Regions from separate parts of the Homo sapiens genome. Here region 2 is linked to region 1. Evidence: fine-mapped expression QTL. A gene starts in region 1. The other region holds a variant in brackets. All regions are shown on one strand. Distances are between the middles of the regions.

Region 1 (5,380 bases):
TTTTAAATGGTCGGTCCATTTTCTGTCTTACCTGAAGATCCGTAAGATCTTTTCTTATATTTTATCCTAGCAACTTTATAATTTTTACACTTAAGTCTATGATCCATCTGAAATTCCTAAATTCTATTTTAATCCTAATAGTTTATTTGTAGATAATTTTGTTTTTTAACATATATAATCATATTGACTGTAAATAATCAGTTTTTCCTCCCTCAATCCTTACACTTTTTGTTTTTATGACCTACAACACTTGTTAGATGCTGCAGGACAATGCTGAATAGACTACGGAGAGTCAAAGATTTTCATACACCCTTATCAGTACAAGTAGATAAAAAGTACAAGTAGATAAAAAGTACAAGTAGATAAAAAAATCAGTAACAAATATGACCTAATTGACATCTGTAGAACTTTATGTCAGTGAAAGCATGTTCTCAGCAAGTGCTCATAGAACATTTACCAAAATAGACAATGTTGGGCCATGAAGCAAGTGTTTGAAAATCTTAAACGACAAAAATAAAACAGCTGATGTTTTAAGGCCCGGTGGAATTAAACTTTAGTTACAATAAAAAGAAAACCAGAAAGTCCCCATATATTTGAAAGGTGAACCTAACTTTTCTAAATATCCCATGGGTCAAAGAGGGAATCACAATGGAAAATCCCAACTCTTCCATATCCGGGCTTACGAAAATAGGGATGTATCTGTGAGGAACGCCTGAATAAAGCAGACAGACAGGATCTATTGGAGCTCCAAATCAGGGGATTTTCTGCCCAACCTGCCTGGAAGGCATTGCTCTGTGGCCCTACTCAGTGGTGTCCCTGGCGGCCCTGAGTTTAGGGGCTCAATTTCATCCATTGAGAAAATGAGTTGTTTATTCCATACACAGGACTATTTCCTCTTATCTCTACCTTTTTAGAAAACACTACAAGTATCAGGATTTTCTCATCGTATTTAGGTAAACAAGAACTAATTTAGTTGACCTTCTTACTTCTGTTGATCAAGACCATTGATCTGACCATTGATCTGTGCAGAAGATCTCTGAATAAGGTACCCAGAGAACCCTAGGAATAGAAACCTGAAATAAGTTTTCTAATCTTAAGGTCGCTGAGAGCAAATACCTTTTTCAATTGATTCATAAAAACAACTCAGTCTGATTTCATAAAATTAGCAAGTGTGAATAATAAACATTGAAAAAATATCACCTTACCTACGATTATTTTTTCCAGCCATTGTAGTCTTTCTATGTTGGCTATGATTTTTACATAGTCCAAAATTTTCAGGGAAATAACTTATTCCAGAGCACACAAGCCTTAAGGGCAGTTAATGTTTAGATTAATTTCGTGATACTTAGCATCCCAAATAGCTGTTTGTATTTCTTCTATAAAACAAGTGAAAGGGGCTAGAAATCTCTAAGAAGTCTGACAGTTCTAAAACACTGACTTAAAATTACTTCTATGATTCGGAGATTTGGGTAGGAGAAGGCATAGAAATAAATCTAGCATCTGCGAACACACTTGTTAAATGTGCTGACCAGGTAAAAGATAACATCCTTTAGTTATTTTGGTTAAAAATGTCTTTGTTTCTCGTTTTTTTTTTTCTTTAATAGTAATTATAACGATAATCTGTTTCCTTTTTAAAAGTATAAGACAAATAAATGCTCAAAGTAAACAATTCCAATAACTCAGAAGGGGCCATTCCCTGGAAAGGTCCCGGGAAAAACGAGCGCTTCCTGGCAAGAAGCAAGCTTCAAAAACTGCCTCGGAAACGTGGCTGAAGTCATCGCATTTCCAAACGCCCAAGCCTTGGCTGGTCCAGGGCAGCTGGCGCGGAAGACCCGGAACGCCCTGTGGGCAGGGCCAGCTGCGGACGGAGGGACGGGGGCTCAAGGGCGGGTCGGGTGGGGTCCCGACGCCCCCTCCTCGGCTGGGCGCACCCCGGGTGTCCGCAGGGAGGGGCGATGTTCTGGGGGGGGGAGCGTCTGCCCGACGCCCCCTCCCTCAGGTGAGCTCAGCCCGTGGGGGTCCGCAGAAAGGGCGGTGCTCTGGGAGAGGGTTAGGGTCTGCCCGGCGCACCCTCCCCAAGGGGCGCAGCTCTGAGCCGGGAGCAGGCTCTGCGGGGAGGATCCAGATGTTGGGGGCGGGGAGGGCACTCGGTCTGCCCAGCGACCCCTCCCGAAGTGAGCGCGGCCCGGGGTCCGCGGGGCAGGAGATGATCCGGGGGCGGGAGCCTCTGCCGCGCGCCCCCTCCCACGCGTGCGCAGCCTGGGCCGGGCGTTGGGCAGCGGGAGGGGGCGCGGGCGGCCACGTGGCCTCGAAGGAATGCGCGGGCGCGAGGGCAGGGCGCTGCCGAGAAACCGGCAGGCTCTGCGGCCAATGGGCGCCCGGAACGGTCTGGGCCCGCCAATGACAGCATGGTGGGTGGAGCAGGCCGTCCGGGCGGGAGGGGCTGGGCGCATCCCTGTAGCCGGCGGGCGCGCGATCCGGGACGGACGGGGTCGCGGGGGACGCGGGGGACGCGGGGGACGGCGGGGAACGGCGGGGGACGGCGGGGAACAGCGGGGGACGGCGGGGAACAGCGGGGGACGGCGGGGAACAGCAGGGGACTGCGGGTCGCGTCCTGGCCGCCGAGGTGAGTGCGGGCCCCGCGGACCGTGGGTCCCCTCGCGGGCTTCTGGTTTCCTTTGAGAGTTGCACTTCTGCCCGGCTCCCCCGAAATCGCTGGGTCCCACCCGGAGGTGGCTGCGCCCCCGACCCCCTGCGCAGATGTTTCAGGGAAGGGGCTGAGACCCCCTCCCCCCGAGCAGCTCCCCCTTCCGCGGCGCCCCCGGCCCCTCAGGATAACGGCGCGGGCCTGGGCGGGGGGAGCAGGGACTGGCAGCAGGGACCCCTGGCCCCAGGGGCAGGAGCGAACTCCGATCGGCGGAAGGAGCCCGAGGGGCGAGCTGGCTTCGCCTGGGGGGTCGTGCAGTAACTTAGATTTTCCGGTAAAGGAGAAGAATGCGGTCCGCCTCAGGATGCAGAGAAGGACCGGTGTAAGGAAAGCCGGCGTCTTTCCCCCGCACCCTACCTGTCCCCCTACCCCACCAGTTCCCCGCACCCCGTGTACCCCGCCTGTCCCTCAGCACCCCCTGTTCACTCTGCACTCCACCAGTTCCCCGCACCCCAGCTGTCCCCCCGCACCCCACCTGTTTACCCTGCACCCCAGCTGTCCCCCGCGCCGCAGCTGTCCCCCCCACACCCCACCTATTCCCCCGCACCCCGCCTGTCCCCCCGCACCCTACCTGTTTATTCTGCACCCCACCTGTCCCCTCGCACCCCACCTGTTCCCCCTGCACCCCACCTGTCTTCCCCACACCCCACCTGTTTACTCTGCACCCCAGCTGTCCCCCCACACCCCACCAGTTCCCCGCACCCCGTGTACCCCGCCTGTCCCTCAGCACCCCATGTTAACTCTGCACTCCACCAGTTCCCCGCACCCCACCTGTCCCCTCGCACCCCACCTGTCCTCCCCACACCCCACCTGTTTACTCTGCACCCCAGCTGTCCCCCCACACCCCACCTGTTCACCCGCACTCCACCTGTCCCCCCGCACTCCACCTGTCCCCCCGCACCCCACCTGTCCCCCCTGCACCTCACCTGTCCCCCCGCACCCCACCTGTCCCCCCGCACCCCACCTGTCCCCCCGCACTCCACCTGTCCCCCCGCACCCCACCTGTCCCCCCGCACCCCACCTGTCCCCCCGCACCCCACCTGTCCCCCGCACCCCACCTGTTCACCTGCACCCCACCTGTCCCCCCGCACCCCACCTGTCTCCCCGTACCCCACCTGTTCCCCCGCACCCCACCTGTCCTCGCACCCCACCTCTCTCCCTGAACCCCACCTGTCCCCTGCACCTCAACTGTCCTGCACCCCACCTGTCCCCCTGATCCCCACCTGTCCTCTGCACCTCACCTGTCCCCCTACACCTCACCTGTTTACCCTGCACCCCAGCTGTCCCTCGCACCCCAGCTGTCCCCCCCGTACTCCACCTGTTCCCCTGCACCCCACAGCCCGCTGGTGCCCAAGAAGCCAAGGTAGATTCTGAGGAAACTGCCCTAGGTCCACAGACGCCCTGCCCACCTGTCCCAGCCCCACTCCCCTTCCATGGGCCCCTGGGCACTGAAGGTGAGGTCTGAGTACCCCTCCCGACTGTGGCCAGTAGGTCATGTTCCCAGGCAGCAGTAGACGAACTTGCTGTTGTCTGATATTGATTCCAGTCACTAACTTTGGCTGCAAGTAAAAATTCTCATTGACTCAAGATGTAACGGGTTTTAATTCTTTTCTCTGGTTAACCATAACCTGAGTACGGACTGGTCAGTATTCTAGATTCTGTGCAGGAGTGACTTAATGTCCATATGGGTGGAATGCTGCAAGGAGGAACAATTTCACTGTTGCTGATTAATAATATGTTTTGAACACCTGCTTTATAGAAAATAATTTTTATTCGAAAAGAGAGATGATTACTGAGGTTTACACGTCATGTATTTTTAAAAACACACTTTGTCCCTGTCTGTCTCTCACAGCATTTATTTGCTGGCTTTAGCAGCCAACATCGGCAGTTACGGATGCATAACTCTTTATAGACAGATGAGACCTCCAGGATTTCTCAGCAGTAAGAAAAGTCATTTGTATAAGGTGCTATTTGTAATTCATTAGTTGTAGACAGTTGGGGGTGAAGTGAAGTTAAAAGTTATTCAGAATAGCTTTTTATGTTTTTAAAAGTTGATGCTTGACTTCCAGATGTAACCACATTTGTCTTCTGGGTGCTTTGGTGTGCTGCCTTTCCTCTGCAGTTTGTGTGTGCATACGTGTGCGTGTGTCTTTGTGTATGTGTTTGTGTTTGTATGCATGTGTGTGCGTTTGTGTGTGCGTGTGTTTGTGTGTGTGCTGTGTGTGTGTGCGCTTTGTGTGTGTGTGTGTGCGCGTGTGTGAGTTGTAGATAGAGGCGTTGGGTGGTGTGGAGGGTGTGGAGTTACAGACCTGGGTTGAGGTGGGGAAGCTTTTCCCTGGCCCTGTGAGTCCAGACTTCTCACGGGACTTGAGGGTGCTCACTTACGAAGTTGCTAGAAGGCGTTGTATGGGGAAGTGCTGCTTAAAACAAAGATGTTTGGCATAAATTAGAGCAAACTGGAAATGCGCTAATGACGGTTGTATTCTGTAAGCGATGTGAAAACGTCATAGTGAGATGTAAGAAAGCGCTGTTGTAGGCCCGTCATTGTTTACTGCACAGTGTGTGGCAGGAAGCATGCAAAGAACAGCTCGGATCTGGAGATGCTCAGAGAATCTGTGTTTCATGCGTGCGTTGCTTATAGTTTGCCTGGGTAGAAAGGTAAGTGGCGTGAAA
Region 2 (5,380 bases), 740 kb after region 1:
CACCTGACCATTGCCTGATGGTCACCTGGCATTTCTGGTGGGGGTTGGGGAGCCCTCCTGCCTTGCTCACATCTGCCTAGCTAACTAACATTACCGACTTTAGAATAAAGGTCCACATCACTGGATTAATAAGGCACTGTTGTCTCTCATTGGATGTTGGCTGGCTGGTGGGATTTGCCTGCATACATACACAGAAGTAAAGAGCAGGGGAGAGAAAATATTCATAGAATCAACAATTTAGAAATGAAATTTTTGATGATTTTCTTCACCATTATAGGCAAATGGAAGCATTTCAAATTGTAAACTCTTTTTAGAATAATGAATAATTCTTTAAAATGAAATGTATCAATACTAGTAGGCTTTATTTGGGAACAACAAATCCACACCTTCAAATTCATTCTTAAATATTTCATGTAAGAAAGCTGTAGCACAGAGCAGTTCATCGACTTGCCAATGACCATAGCAGCTCACTGCTGGTGGAGCCGGGGCCAGGTTTGTGTCTCACTTTTTCAAACCAGTGTTCTCAAATGTCCAAACTCATTAGTTTCAAAGTTATCACATTTTTTTAAAATCTGAAAACAAGCTGATGGCTTAGAAGCTGATGTTGGGAAGGTGCTTCCAAGTGATACAAGTTTTGCATTTTCTCTTGTAGACACCTCTTGGGAATTCACTAAACGTGTCTGCTATGGTCTGAATATCTGTGTCACCTCCTCCCAGATTCATATGTTGAAATTATAAACCCCTAATGTGATAGTATTAGAAGGCGGAGCTTTGGTAGGTGATCAGGTCAACAGGGTGGAGGCCTCATGAGTGGGGATTGGGGCCCTTGTGAAAAAGGAAGGCTCCATCTGTGAACCAGGAAGCCAGTCCTCACAGGAGATTTATCTCTGGGTGACTTGGTCTTGGATTTCCAGATTCCAGAACTGTGAGAAATGAATATCTGCTGTTTGTAAATCCCCTGTAGCCTGGTATTCTGTGATAGCAGCATGAGCAGACTAGAAAAAAGTCCTGCCGGTCACATGGTGAAGCCTCAGCCTGATCACTTCTATCTCTTTTGGTTTTTTACTTCCTTGAGTGATTCCTGTATCTCATATCATGTGAAATATATTTCATCGTGTTTGAGATTTTAACAGGTCATTACAAAACTAATGATAAGGATAATCAAATTATTTTAATCCTATGAAATTAAAATCTCAAAAGAAGAGAAGAAAATGGAAATGAACCACCAAAATAGTAATAATCATAATGACCACAGTAACAGTAAGCCCCTTAATTTGTGTCTTGAACATGTTCTTGGTACCTCCCTGTGTTTACAACCAACCCTTTCACCAACCATGTGGGGCAGGTGCGTTATTCTCATTTCACAGGTGAGAGCACTGAGGCACACAGAGTTTGAATACATTGTTTAAGGTCACATATTTAGTTTATGTTACAACTAGGGTTTTTTTTTTTTTGTTTTCTTTTTTGAGACAAGTTCTCACTCTGTCACCCAGACTGGAGTGTAGTGGTGCAGTCTTGGCTCACTGCAGCCTTGACCTCCAGGGCTCTGGTGATTCTTCCATCGCAGCCTCTAAACAAGGCATTCTGACTCCAGAATCTGGTACACATACCTAAAAAAGTGAAACCTGGTACCTCATCTGAGAATAAGGCTGACTACATAAAACATCACGTGGCTACACTCCCAACCGAGGCATCAGTAGTACGCTTCGCCCACATAGACACACACTTTTTATTCCCACTGTGTGTTTATACCCTCAAACCCCTTTGCAGAAATGATTGAGTGCTTTCTATAGGGCTTCTTTTAGCCTAAATTGAGAGTAAAGGTTTAAAAAAACAGTTCAATATTTAAAAAAAAAAACAATTCAATGGACTGAGCACAGTGGCATACGTCTGTAATCCAGGCACTTTGGGAGGTAGGAGGGTCACTTGAGCTCAGGAGTTCGGGACCAGCTTGTTACAGCTTGATATGTAGCATTTCATCTCTACAAAACAATTTTTAAAAAATTAGCCAAGTATAGTGGCATGTGCCTGTACTTCCAGCTACTTGGAAGCTGAAAAAGGAGGATCTCTTGAGCCTGGGAGGTTGAGGTTGCCCTGAGCCATGATCATGCCACTGCACTGCAGCCTGGGTGACAGAGAGAGACTTTGCCTCAAAAAAGAAATAAATAAAATAAAAACAAAATAAAACCAGTTAAATGGACAAGAGAAGAAAAAATGGGGGAAAAAACCAATGAAAGATACCAATAATAGACATTTTATACAGATAGTATTTGAAAAGTTTTCTACATCTTAGATCCAATATGTTTTTTTTCCAATCATATGCTCTCTTCTTATAAATAATCTTGCAAAAAGGTAAAATAGTTATAGAATCATCATCAATTAGACGTGCAAATTAAATGTAGTTCCTCACAAAGGAAAAAAAACTCACCTTTTTGTTTCTTAAACTGGCACTTGCTAATTTAGAACTTTATTGTAAAATAAAATGCTTTCTACTTCCCTAAGGGGTTGGGATTCCTATATAGTTTCTGCATACAGGAAAGAACTTTAGATTTTACTTTGGGAAAACAAACTTTTTGAATTAATTTTCAAA[T/C]AGTCACTTATCCTATGATGAACTTCGTAGACATTTTCCCTGTAGTTTTTCAAAGTTGTTAAATAGATCGCACTGTACACAGCATATTATTACACACGTGGTACACCATGGTTGTCTATGGCATATGGAGCTGCGTGCAACCATGCAAAAAGCTGTCTGCAAAAGCGTTGGCTTGACTGGAAGACACAAGGAGGGTTATGGCTTCTCGTGACCTTGATCATTCACTTTAATTTTTACAGATTCAATTTTTGCACGTAGAAAATGGGCCAGTCATATCTGTCCTGATGTCTGGCAGTTAGTTATGATGCTCTTTATTATGATATATGGGGAAGAGTTATTAAATGAATAAACAATGCACTATTTGTTTTCATTATGGAATGCGTTAGAGTTTGATAGAAGCCATACTATTTTCATTTATCTGAACTTTTACTGCTTAGACTACAGGGGTAGGAGTCACATCTAGATCATGTTACTTCATTTACATCAGCAATTTGCAGGGACCACCTGCAGCAGGGACCCGCCATGGGCTCCGCTTTTGATTTACAGCTCAATGCACCTGGAGTTGATCATGGAGCCAACGAGTGCTGTTATGCTGTGACAAACCTTAGTGTTTTGCTTGCACCTCTTTTTTGACATGAGAACTATCCTACCATAGTACCTTGTTTGCACTTCTTCCAAAATACTAATAATAAACAGTTATCTGAAATAGCACCTGAAGACAAATGCTTCTAGAATGTGGGCTTTGGGGAGGCCATGTGGGTTTGTCAGGAGAGACAGAGAGCAAAGGCTGCGGGCGTGCCAGGCTGCTGCCGAGGGGCGCGAAGATGGTGGAGAACATGTCCCAGGCCTGTTTGTCCCACCTTTTGTATACAAGACACCTTGTATGTTTCCTTAACAAACTTGTGCATGCATCTTACATGCCCTACCAAACTAATTATTTTGAAGCCTACTGCAGCTTCATACCCTCCTTGTATCTTCCCCAAGGCTCAGCCTAGGGCTTTATACCAGGAAGCTACTTGTTAAGCCGTTTTGCTTTAAAATATTAATATCACTATTTCAGATGCAGCCACATTCATATTCAAAATTTCCTTTTACATTAAACAAATCCTACTGATCAGTAGATGGCAAGCTTGCTACATCTAAATACTGAGGTTTGGTTTTTCTGTTAGAAACTTCACTGACATTTTATTCCAAAATATTTAAAGCTTCTTTAAATTGATAGCATTCAGTTTGTTGTAAAACTGACCTGCTAATGCAATAGTTGATGCGTTCACTCACATCGAACTTCCAGCATTTAAGATACTGAATTAAATGAAAATGGAATTCCCAAGTCAAGTAAACAAATGATGCACTTTCAATTAATAAAGTAATTCAGAGTTTTAATTCTTATTAATTAAACTTCTATTTCCTCACAAAATATGCTCTAGCTACCCCATAATGGTTGCACCTGAAGAAACACGTCTGTTTGCCAGAAACAAAATAAAGAACTGCTGGTCACAGCTGCTCTGTTATGGTCCTCTGCTCATAGCACTGTTTCTGTTTTAATATAAGCTAACCAAGCAGGGAGAGAAAAGTACTATGTCAACCTCACCCACATGAAAGTGCCAAATAAGAATTCAGGAAAAGACAAGGGAAGTTAAGTTCTCAACAAACAAATCAATATGATTAAGAAAACTAACAGAGATGACTTGAGCCCAGGAATTTGAGTTCAAGACAAGCCTGGGCAACATGGTGAAATCCAGTCTCTACAAAAAACTATAGAAATTAGCTGGGTGTGGTGGTGAGTGCTTGTAGTCTCAGCTACTCAAGGATCTGAGGTGAGGTGGGAAGATCACCTGAGCCCCAGGGAGGTTGAGGCTGGAGTGAGCCATGATGACACCACTGCACTCCAGTCTGGGTGACAGAATGAGACCACCCAGAAAAAAAAGGAAAGAGAAAGAAAGAGAGAGAAAAAGAAAGAAAGAGAAAGAGAGAGAGAAAGAGAGAAAAAGAAAAGAAAAGAAAGAAAGAAAGAAAGAAAGAAAGAAAGAAAAAGAAAGGAAGAAGGAAAGAAAAGAAAGAAAGAAAGAATGGAAAGAGGGAGGGAAGGAGGGAGGAAATTAAGAGGCAAATTGAATTCATACTTTATTTATTTATTTATTGACAGTCTTGCTCTGTTGTCTAGGCTGGAGTATAGTGACTTGATCACTGTAGCCTCCACATCCCACGCTCAAGTGATTCTCCCACCTCCGCCTCTCAAGTAGCTGGGACTATGGGCACATACCACCATGCCCAACTATTTTTTTTGTTGTTATTTGTAGAGGTGGGGTCTCACTTTGTTGCCTAGGCTGGGCTCGAACTTCTGAGCTCAAGTGATACTCCCGCCTTGGCCTCACACAGTGCTGGGATCACAAGCATGAGCCACCATACCCAGCCTGGTATACACTTCAAATGACTTGATGAGAAATACATTTTATTTATGAGTTGTTTTCTATTTGATAAGGTTTTTGACAGATAATTTGATCTGAAAAGAAATCATGACTTTTCACGAATAATAAATAGTATTAATTTTCTACAAATACTTTTTTGGGCCTTTAAAACTCAACTTTATATGATAAAGTCTAGATTATAGTAGAACAAAGGTGATAATAATTTGTATATTGTCTTGTACAAGACAAGAAATCACAGCTAAAAGCTACATAAGTGGCCTGGGCAAGGTGGTTCATGCCGGTAATCCCAGCATTTTGGAAGGCTGAGGCAGGTGAATCACTTCGGGAGTTCAAGACCAGCCTGGCCAACACATTGAAACCC

Evidence for each region. PIP is the estimated chance that this variant, and not a neighbour inherited with it, causes the effect.
Region 2: its variant is the best candidate, but not a certain one, in a credible set for the expression of ARHGEF10 in aorta (GTEx, PIP 0.58).

What each region holds. Positions count from the first base shown.
Region 1 is chr8:1,821,488-1,826,867 of GRCh38, forward strand. It overlaps ARHGEF10 (Rho guanine nucleotide exchange factor 10), which reads left to right and starts at 2,439. Exons shown (of 29, transcript NM_014629.4): 1 at 2,439-2,626.
Region 2 is chr8:2,566,101-2,571,480 of GRCh38, forward strand. The region is part of intron 5 of LINC03021 (long intergenic non-protein coding RNA 3021); the gene reads right to left. Among named protein-coding and RNA genes, the nearest start is that of LINC03021, 160 kb to the right of the region's middle. The variant T/C (reference allele first, on the strand shown) is at 2,591.